2 linked regions of the Homo sapiens genome follow. The protein of the gene in region 1 purifies or fractionates together with the protein of each later gene. This does not show direct contact. Each region holds a gene or a part of one and is shown on either strand. Other genes may lie near its edges.

Region 1 (4,805 bases):
TTTTTTTTTGCACTCATTTTGGCTTTCTGAAAATAGTGCATTACATTTTACTTGTTTTTTCCTACTTTCTGGTGCCTCCTGAAAGTTTGTACATGAGGGAGTGCCTCACTCACCCCAGTCTATTCTCAGCCCTGCAAGAGACCCATGGAAATCAGATTCCTAAAAATCCAGAAAAGTTACATGGACCTCTGCTGTCTCATGTAGTTGCTTCTGACTCTCGGCAAAGCAATTTGCGCTCCCCAAGTTGTGGGGCGAAACTGTCCACCAGCGGGCCAGTCATGTTTTTGGTTGCGTCTGTCGGTACTTTTGTCATCAATGCATATGAAATGAAGCTGTTTCTGGTTTTTCAATTACTGGGCCAGGGACCAGGCCTCCCTGACTGTTCTGTTCCTGAGTTACTGTTTATTAAGAGCTCCCACCAAGTCTGCCCTGAGGAGGCCACAAAAGAAGAAGAGGCCAGTGCTTCCAAGCCTGTGAATGTCCCCAAGGTCTCCCAAAGCTCTTGGCCCTCCTAAGACTCTGAGGTGGGGCAGATGAGAAAGAGAGCTGATGCCTCATCCTGTCTGTCTATTCTTGGGAGGTTTGGTGGGTGAGCCAGGATTCCGAAGCCCCCAAAACTATGCGGACAAACAATTCATTCACATGTGGCTGTCTGTACTCAGCCATGCTCTGCAATTTATTTTCCGAGTGCAATTAATTTCTATTCCAAAGTGGGCAAAAGTCTGTGTGTATGTGTGTGTGCATTTCCAATTTTGAGGAACTCTGTTTCAACTGAAACATGACAAGGAAGGAGACCAGGTCACTTTCTCATGCAAAACAGAGACCATCCACTTCCAATACACTGGAACGCGGGGTGGTGCCGTAGACAGGGTCACCCTTTACAGCTCCCCCTCTGAGGTTTGGAACTGGAATTATAAAGCAGAAGCATTGTTTGCCTCCCAGCTTCCTTTGTTTTAAATTCTTGCAGGAACAAACATGACCAGACACATCAGAGCCTTTCATGTGCCTTCAGATTGAAGGCCAAGTTCCTCACTGTAATGGCCCTTTCATCTAGCACAAATCCAAATTCTCCCTCGGGGTCACACAGGGTCACAACCTCTTTGTACCAAGTTTTCTTGCTACAAATCAAACTGCCTTCCAGCCTCAAGTCCCTCTGTCTCCCAAGTGGAGATTAGTTGCATTCCACCAAGTCTGTTTTTGTTCCTGGACCACTCACACTTCCTGCTGACTCTGGGGCAGAAAACGGGCTTTCTACCTGTGCATCCCCAACAGAAAAGTCCTCGTAGGACTGACCTTTCCAACAAACTGCGAAACTTAGCCCTAAGTCTCCCCAATTTTAAAGAAGTATCTTGCCGTCCAGTGTTCTAAGAAATATGCCACTCCAACTCAAAACTGGTACCCAAAAGTGTGCTAATTTCTAAGGAAGAGATAGAAATGGTTATGTGAGGGGAAAAACCTCCTGAAACCATGATCAGTCAGAACCTCAAGCTCAGGGTCCCTTTTAATCTGGCCAACACCCTCTTCTTTCACATGCCCGTCTCAAAAGCACATCATGAAATGATGTTTTCTAAATAGATGTCTGTGGGATTTCCTCGATTGCTTCCTGGTGACTCCCAGTTGGTGACACCCACTTCAGGTCCTGGGCAATGCTGGGTGAAGTCAGAAGTGAGGCTACTGGTGCCCCATGGGGTCCTCAGCTGCAAATTACAAGGCATTATATCTACTCTGCTGGACGTACCAAGGACATGAGAGCCACAGATGCCTCACAGAGCTCTCAGCATAGGTGTTTAACAAAGAGGTAAACAGATCATTCCTGTTCTCCTGAACTGAGACCCTAATCACCCCAATCACCACCCCTACCTCCTATTTCACAGACACAGCCCCAGACGGGTGCCCGCAAAGAGCGCCATGCCCCATTACTGAAAACTTTCAGTGATTTACCAAGGGGAGAGGGAAGCAATAGAAAGCAGAAAGGAGGGGCTGGAAGGGCGGGACTGAATCTCAGCCCAGCCCAGCAACCTTTGACCACAGAGTCTTTATCAGGCTGCTTATCAGCAACAGCAGACAGCCAGGCACACCTTTTCCCAGAGTCTGTAAGCTTTCTGCTAATTGAGGCTAACAGACCGTCCTGCAGGGGACAGGGTGGACAGGTTTGCTCCGGGGCACTCCAGGAGCTAAGATCAGAGTCAGAAGGTCCAAAGAGGTGGACCCCAGCAGAACTTGAGCAAGGACTTTCTACTCACCAGCCAGCATCCTCCAATCACAGGATTGGATATGGCAGGAGGACTGGTTTTGGCCCAGGAAGGGCTTCTGCAGGGCTGGAGGTTGTGTTGTTATCATTGTGGCCACCATCTTCAAGACGTTGAGTGTTTACTAGATTGTAGGCGCTGTGCTAACCACGCCCTGTGTACTTTCTTGTGTCATCCTGAAAACATCTTTCCTCATAGAGTGCTATCTATTCCCCCACTCTCTAGATGGGGACACTGAAGGTCTCAGAGGTGACATCTCCTAAGTGGCAGATCCAGATTTCAGCCCAGGCATTCGAGCCCACAGTTTGAGCTCTTAACCCCTACAAAGGGATCTGTTCCTCCTCCACGTGACAATTTGGATGAGTGGGCCCCAGGCCCCATTCCTCTCTAAACCCCAGGAGTCTCTAAACCAAAGTGTGAAGCTGGATCTGCAAGAAGAGATGGATTTGAGCAGTCCCACCTCCTATGTCTGCCCTGCTCCCGTAACCACACCAAGAAGCAAGAAGACAGAACAAGGCACAGAGCAGCAGCCAAGAAAAGAAAAATCCTGCACCAGGAATGAGACTCATGGCCTGGGGGTCCCTCGCCCTCTCGCCTAGACTCAGCCCCCTCTGTCCCAGCATCTCTGACATCAGGACAAACCTTCTGGTTTGCTTGGAGTGCACACTCAACCAGCCCCTCTTACCCACAGAGAAACCACCAAGGGCTCTGGTAGGCTAAAGGAAAATCACATGCTTCTATGCAAGCCAAGGCTACATTTCCAGAATAAAATTTAGGACTTGTGATGGACCAAGGATTTGGGTTTTGCCCATGTGTTAACATATGTTAATAAAAATAATCTTGCAAAAGGGTAAATATATGATTACATAGAATTATATATATGAATCATCACTATCAAAAAGAACAAAACCCCAGCCCTAACAATGTAACAAGACCCGATCTCTACAAAAAAAAAAAAAAATTACTAAATTAGCTAGGCATGGTGACACGCACCTGTGGTTCCAGCTACTCGGGAGGCTGAGGTGGGAGATTCGATTGAGCCCAGGAGTTCAAAGTTGCAGTGACCTATGATTGCATCACTGCACTTCAGCCTGGGCGACAGAATGAGACACTGTCTCAAAAAGAACAAAACCACCCTTAATCAGTCACGGATGGGGAACCATGTCTTTTATTCATTCTTGGGTCCCAGAGCCCCATTCAATACTGACCCAGGTGAGGCACTCTGGGAAAACATATTAAATGAACGAAAGCAGGAGTCATCTAAGATGGCATATTAGTCACCTAAGAAGCCCATGTTGGGAACATGCACACAGGAGGAGGCTTACAGGGCAGGCTTCAGGGCCAAACTTCTGGGCTGGCAGCCCAGTCCCTACTCACAAGCTCTGCAACCTTGGCCAACTGACTCCGCCTCCTGGGCTCAGCTTCTTCCTGTAAACTACAGGGACAATAGCATCCAACTAATGGGGCTGTCAAGCTGATCCCATGAGATGACATGAGGTCACAGTCATGGTCAGCCATCCTCACCATCCATGATTAGTAGCAGACTATTCATGACCCCTTTCCAAAACCATGATGGCAGAAAGACTGGCCCTCTGCCTCATATGGCCACATGTCCAACAATGATACTGCCAGGTGTGGCTCACAGGTCAGGGTGACTTTTGTTTTTTTGAGATGGAATCTTGGTCTGTCACCCAGGCTGGAGTGCAGTGGCGTGATCTCTGCTCACTGCAACCTCCACCTCCTGGGTTCAAGTGATTCTCCTGCTTCAGCCTCTCCAGTAGCTGGGACTACAGGCACATGCCACCATGCCTGGCTATTTTTTGTATTTTTAGTACAGACGGGGTTTCACCATGTTGGCCAGGCTCATCTCAAACTCCTGACTTCAAGTGATCTGCCCACCTCAGCCTCCCAAAGTGTTGGGTTTATAGGTGTGAGCCACCGCGCCTGGCCCAGGGTGACTTTTATCGGGATCCCAAAATCACATTCTGGTGCTCAGCTGGCTCCTCATGTGCAGGAAGTTGGGGTTCCAGATCCAACCGTTCTATTGGGATGTTCTAAAATTTGGAATATCTCTTCTTGAGACCATGCCAAGATGCCTTTCTTGAAGAACACAGAAGGCAAAGCCAGAATCTGTGATGCTGCCCTTTTGTGGTAGAATACATTAAAATACAAGTTTAAATGTTTTGTTAATGCTTTTTTTTTTTTTTTTTTTTTTTTACTCTTTATGCATTTAGGGGAGAAAAAAACTCAAAAGAAATGGCATTCCTGCTGGATTAAGTTTAGTGTGGCTTGATCCAGGGCAGCCTGGGAAGCCGGCCTGGGCATCTTGATAGGAGCTGATCAGACTGTTGGGATTAGGAGAGACTTGGCAGCTCACTGTCCTGGAGCGGCTGATGTCTGCACCTTCCAGAGGGTCACAGAGAGGCAACAGCACCTCCTGGCTCAAGGCCACACAGATAGTCATGGCCAGGACTCAAGGGCAGCACTTCTGGGTTCTGGAGTCTTCTCCACAAGTCGGGACTGCAAATCCCAAATTTTCCACCATGATCATGATTC
Region 2 (4,805 bases), on another chromosome or scaffold:
TCTGTTTTACTCTTCATAGCTTTATTGAGATGTAGTTCATGTACCACACAACTCATCCATTGTAAACATGATTTGATGATTTTTAGTTAAATTATAGAATTGTGCAGTCGTCTGGCCAGGCGCGGTGGCTCACGCCTATAATCCCATCACTTTGGGAGGCCAAGGCGGGCGGATCACAAGGTCAGGAGATGGAGACCATCCTGGCTAACACGGGGAAACCCCGTCTCTACTAAAAATACAAAAAAATTTAGCCGGGCGTGATGGCAGGCGTCTATAGTCCCAGCTACGCGGGAGGCTGAGGCAGGCTGAATTGCTTGAAGCTGAGAGGTGGAGGCTGCAGTGAGCCGAGATTGCGCCACTGCACTCCAGCCTGGGTGACAGAGCGAGACTCCGTCTCAAAAAAAAAGGCTGGGCGCGGTGGTTCACGCCTGTAATCCCAGCACTTTGGGAGGCTGAGGCAGGTGGATCACAAGGTCAGGAGATCAAGACCATCCTGGCTAACACCGTGAAACCCCATCTCTACCAAAAATACAAAAAATTAGCTGGGTGTGGTGGCGGGCACCTGTAGTCCCAGCTACTCAGGAAGCTGAGGCAGGAGAATGGTGTGAACCCAGGAGGCGGAGGTTGCAGTGAGCCGAGACTGCGCCACTGCACTCCAGCCTAGGTGTCAGAGTGAGACTCCGTCTCAAAAAAAAAAAAAAAAAAGAATTGTGGGTGGGTGCGGTGGCTCACGCCTGTAATCCCAGCACTTTGGGAGGCCGAGGCAGGCGGATCACGAGGTCAGGAGATCGAGACCATCCTGGCTAACACGGTGAAACCCCATGTCTACTAAAAATACAAAAAATTAGCCAGGTGTGGTGGCAGGCGCTTGTAGTCCCAGCCACTCGGGAGGCTGAGGCAGGAGAATGGCATGAACCCGGGAGGTGAAGCTTGCAGTGAGCCGAGATCACGCCATTGCACTCCAGCTGGGCGATAGAGTGTGACTCTGTCTCCAAAAAAAAAAAAAAAAAAGGAGGGGACATTGAAGCAACAACAACAAAAAAAAGAATTGTGCAGTCATCACCACAATTGCAGACATTTCCCTTGTAAAAGTTTCCTTCCATCTGTTTGCAGAGTCCCTACCCCAACCCCCACCCTCAGCCCATCAGCGATCTGCTTTCTTTTTTCTTTGAGATGGAGTGTTGCTCTGTCGCCCAGGTTGCAATGCAGTGGCATGATCTCGGCTCAGTGCAACGTCCGCCTCCTGGGTTCAAGCAATTCTCCTGTTTCAGCCTCCTGAGTAGCTTGGATTACAGGTGCGCACCACCACGCCCGGCTAATTTTTAAATTTTTGGTACAGATGAGGTTTCACCATATTGGCCAGTCTGGTCTCGAGCTCCTGACCTCAGGTGATCTGCCTGCCTTGGCCTCCCAAAGTGCTAGGATTACAGGTGTGAGCCACTATGCCCAGCCTTTTCTGTTTTTTTTTGAGACAGTCTCGCTCTGTTGCCCTGGAGTGCAGTGGTGCAATCTTGGCTTACTGCAACCTCTGCCTCCTGGTTTCAAGTGATTCTCCTGCCTCAGCCTCCCAAGTAGCTGGGATTATAGGCACTGGCCACTATGCCAGGCTAATTTTTGTATTTTTAGTAGACACGGGGTTTCACTATGTTGGGAAGGCTGGTTTCGAACTCCCGACCTCAGGTGATCTGCCCACCTCAGCCTCCAAAGTGCTGGGATTACAGGGGTGAGCCACTGCACCTGGCCTGCTTTCTGTTCGTATGTGTGTGTGTGTGTGTGTGTGTGTGTGTGTGTGTGTGTGTGAAAAGTGTCTATTTGAGTCTTTTGTCCAATTTTCAAAAACTGGATTGTTTATCTTACGGAGTTGTAACAAAGAGTTCTTTATGTGTTCTGGATAGGATTCTCCTGTCAGCCATGTGATTTGCAAATATTTTCTCCCAGTCTGGCTTGTCTTTTAATTTTCTTAATGGTGTTTCTTTTGAAGAGCAAAAGTTTTGAATTTTGACGAAGTCTCATTTACTGCTTTTTAAGTGGATACTGCTTTTGGAGTTATGTTTAAGAAATCTTGGGCCCAGGCATGGTGGCTCACGCCTGTAATCCCAGCACTTTGGGAGGCCAAGGTGGGCGGATCATGAGGTAAAGAGATTGAGACCATCCTGGCCAACATGGTGAAACCCCATCTCTACTAAAAATACAAAAATTAGCTGGGCGTGGTGGCACACACCTGTAGTCCCAGCTGCTCAGGAGGCTGAGGCAGGAGAATTGTTTGAACCCGGGAGGCGGGGGTTGCAGTGAGCCTAGATCGCGCCACTGCACTCCAGCCTGGTGAAAGAGCGAGACACCGTCTCAAAAAAAAAAAAAAAATCATACAGGCGGCTGGGTGTGGTGGTTCATGCCTGTCATCTCAGCATTTTGGGAGGCTGAGGTGGGCGGATCACCTGAGGTCAGGAGTTCGAGACCAGCCTGGCCAACAAGGTGAAACCTCGTCTCTACTAAAAATACAAAAATGAGCTGGACGCAATGGCGCACGCCCGTAATCCCAGCTACTCAGGAGGCTGAGTCAGGAGAATTGCTTGAACCTGGGAGGTGGAGTTGGGTTGCAGTGAGCCAAGATCATGCCACTGCACTGCAGCCTGGGCAAACAGTGAGACACCATCTCAAAAAAAAAAAAAAAAAAAAAGCGCAGGTGCAGTGGCTCGCGCCTGTAATCCTAGCACTTTGGGAGACTGAGATGGGTGGATTGCCTGAGCTCAGGAGTTTGAGACCAGCCTGGGCAACATGGTGAAACTCCATGTCTCCTAAAATACAAAAAATTAGTTGGGTGTGGCAGCATGTGCCTGTAGTCCCAGCTAATTGGGAGGCCGAGGCAGAAGAATCGCTGGAACCCGGAGCGCGGCAGAGGTTGCAGTGAGCCGAGATTATGCCACTGCACTCCAGCCTGAGCGACAGAGTGAGACGCCGTCTCAAAAAAAAAAAAACAAATAGAAAGAAAAGAAATCTTTGCCTAGGTCAAGGTCACAAAGATTTTCTCCTATTTTTTTCTAGCATTTTGTTGTTGTTGTTGTTGTTGGTTTTTTTTGAGATGGAGTCTCCCTCTGTCACCCAGGCTGGAGTGTAGTGGCATGATCTTAGCTCACTGCAGCCTCTGCCCGGGTTCCAGCGATTCTTCTACCTCAGCCTACTGAGTAGCTGAGATTACAGGTGCGAGCCACCACGCCCGGCTAATTTTTGGATTTTTTAGTAGAGACGGGGTTTTCACCATATTGGCCAGGCTGATCTCAAACTGACCTTGTGATCTGCCTGCCTTGGCCTCCCAGATTGCTGGGATTACAGGCGTGAGCCGCTGTGCCCGGCCTTTTCTAGAAGTTTTATAGTTTTAGCTCTTACATTTAGGTCTTTGATCCATTTAGAGTTAATTCTTTTTTTTTTTTTTTTTTTTAATTTTGAGATAGGGTCTTACTCTGTCATTCAGGCTAGAGTATAGCGGCATGATGTCACTCTAGCCTTGACTTCCTGGCTCAGGTGATTCTCCCACCTCAGCCTCCCAAGTAGCTGGGTTTTCCCAGCTATGTATGTGTACCACTATGCCCAGCAAAGTTTTTGTATTTTTTTTGTAGAGACAGGGTTTCACCGTGTTGTCCAGGCTGGCCTCAAAGTCCTGGACTCAAGCAATCTGCCCACCTTGGCCTTCCAGAGTGCTGGGATTACAGGTGTGAGCCGCTGTAGCTGACCAAATTAATTTGTTTCACTTATGGCTTGAGATAAAGATCTAAACCCCCCTTTTTTGTGGATGGAATTCAATTATTTTAGTATCATTTGTTGTAGAGACTATCATCTTCCCATCAAATTGCCTTTGCACCTTTGTCAAAAATTAGTTGACCTAAGCCAGGCATTGTGGCTGGATAACAAAGCAAGACCATGTCTCTTAAAAATCAAAACAACAGCGACAAGAACCCCACCAGTTAACCATGAATGTGAGGGTTTATTTTGGGACTCTCCATTCTGTTCCATTGATTTATGTGTGTCCCAGAAGTTCTCAACTGGGGCATTTTTGCCCTCTCAAGGGACATTTGGCCATGTCTGGAGACATTTGTGATTGTCACAGCTGGGGGCATCTGTTGGGTAGAGGCCACAGGACAGTCCCCCACAATTAAGAATAAATCGGCCCAGAATATCCATAGTGCTTAGACTGAGAAATCCTGGTCTGTTCTTAGACCAGCAGCACACTGGCTTGTTTACAGTAGTTTGATAGTAAGTTGTGAAATCAGGTAGCATAAGTTCTCCAACTTTGTTCTCTTTCAAAATTGTTTTGGTTATGCTAAGTTCTTTGCATTTCCATATACATTTTATAATTAGCCTGTCAATTATTTCTACAAAAGCAGCCTGCAATTTTGATAAGTATTACATTGGATATATAAATCTATGTGGTGAGAATTGCTGTCTTTACAGTGCTGACTCTGGGAATCCATGAACATGGTATATCTCTACATTAATTTTGATATTTAGCTTCTCAGTTGTTTTTTTTTTTCAGATAACTTTACCTATTTAAGGCAAGTGATATTTGCCAATCTATTACTGATATATTGCCTTCCCAATCTAGTAGTGATAAAAAATTTCCTTTTTTTTTTTTTTTTTTTTTTTTGAGATGGAGTCTTGCTCTTGTCACCCAGGCTGGAGGGCAATGGCGCAATCTTGACTCACTCCAACCTCTGCCTCGCAGGTTCAAGTGATTCTCTCCTGCCTCAGCCTCCTGTGTTGCTGGGACTACAGGTGCATGCCACCACGCCCAGCTAATTTTTGTATTTTTA

Evidence for each region. Proteins that work in one complex are often made in the same cells at the same time.
Region 2: the proteins of EDN3 (region 1) and MGRN1 purify together in Homo sapiens (co-immunoprecipitation; 2 studies listed by BioGRID and IntAct, with this or other methods). This does not show direct contact.

The regions. Positions count from the first base shown.
Region 1 is NC_000020.11:59,306,257-59,311,061, reverse strand, and holds part of EDN3 (endothelin-3 isoform 1 preproprotein), read right to left. Parts: intron 1-4,805. UniProt on the Homo sapiens protein: Endothelins are endothelium-derived vasoconstrictor peptides.
Region 2 is NC_000016.10:4,627,393-4,632,197, forward strand, and holds part of MGRN1 (E3 ubiquitin-protein ligase MGRN1), read left to right. Parts: intron 1-4,805. UniProt on the Homo sapiens protein: E3 ubiquitin-protein ligase. Mediates monoubiquitination at multiple sites of TSG101 in the presence of UBE2D1, but not of UBE2G1, nor UBE2H. Plays a role in the regulation of endosome-to-lysosome trafficking.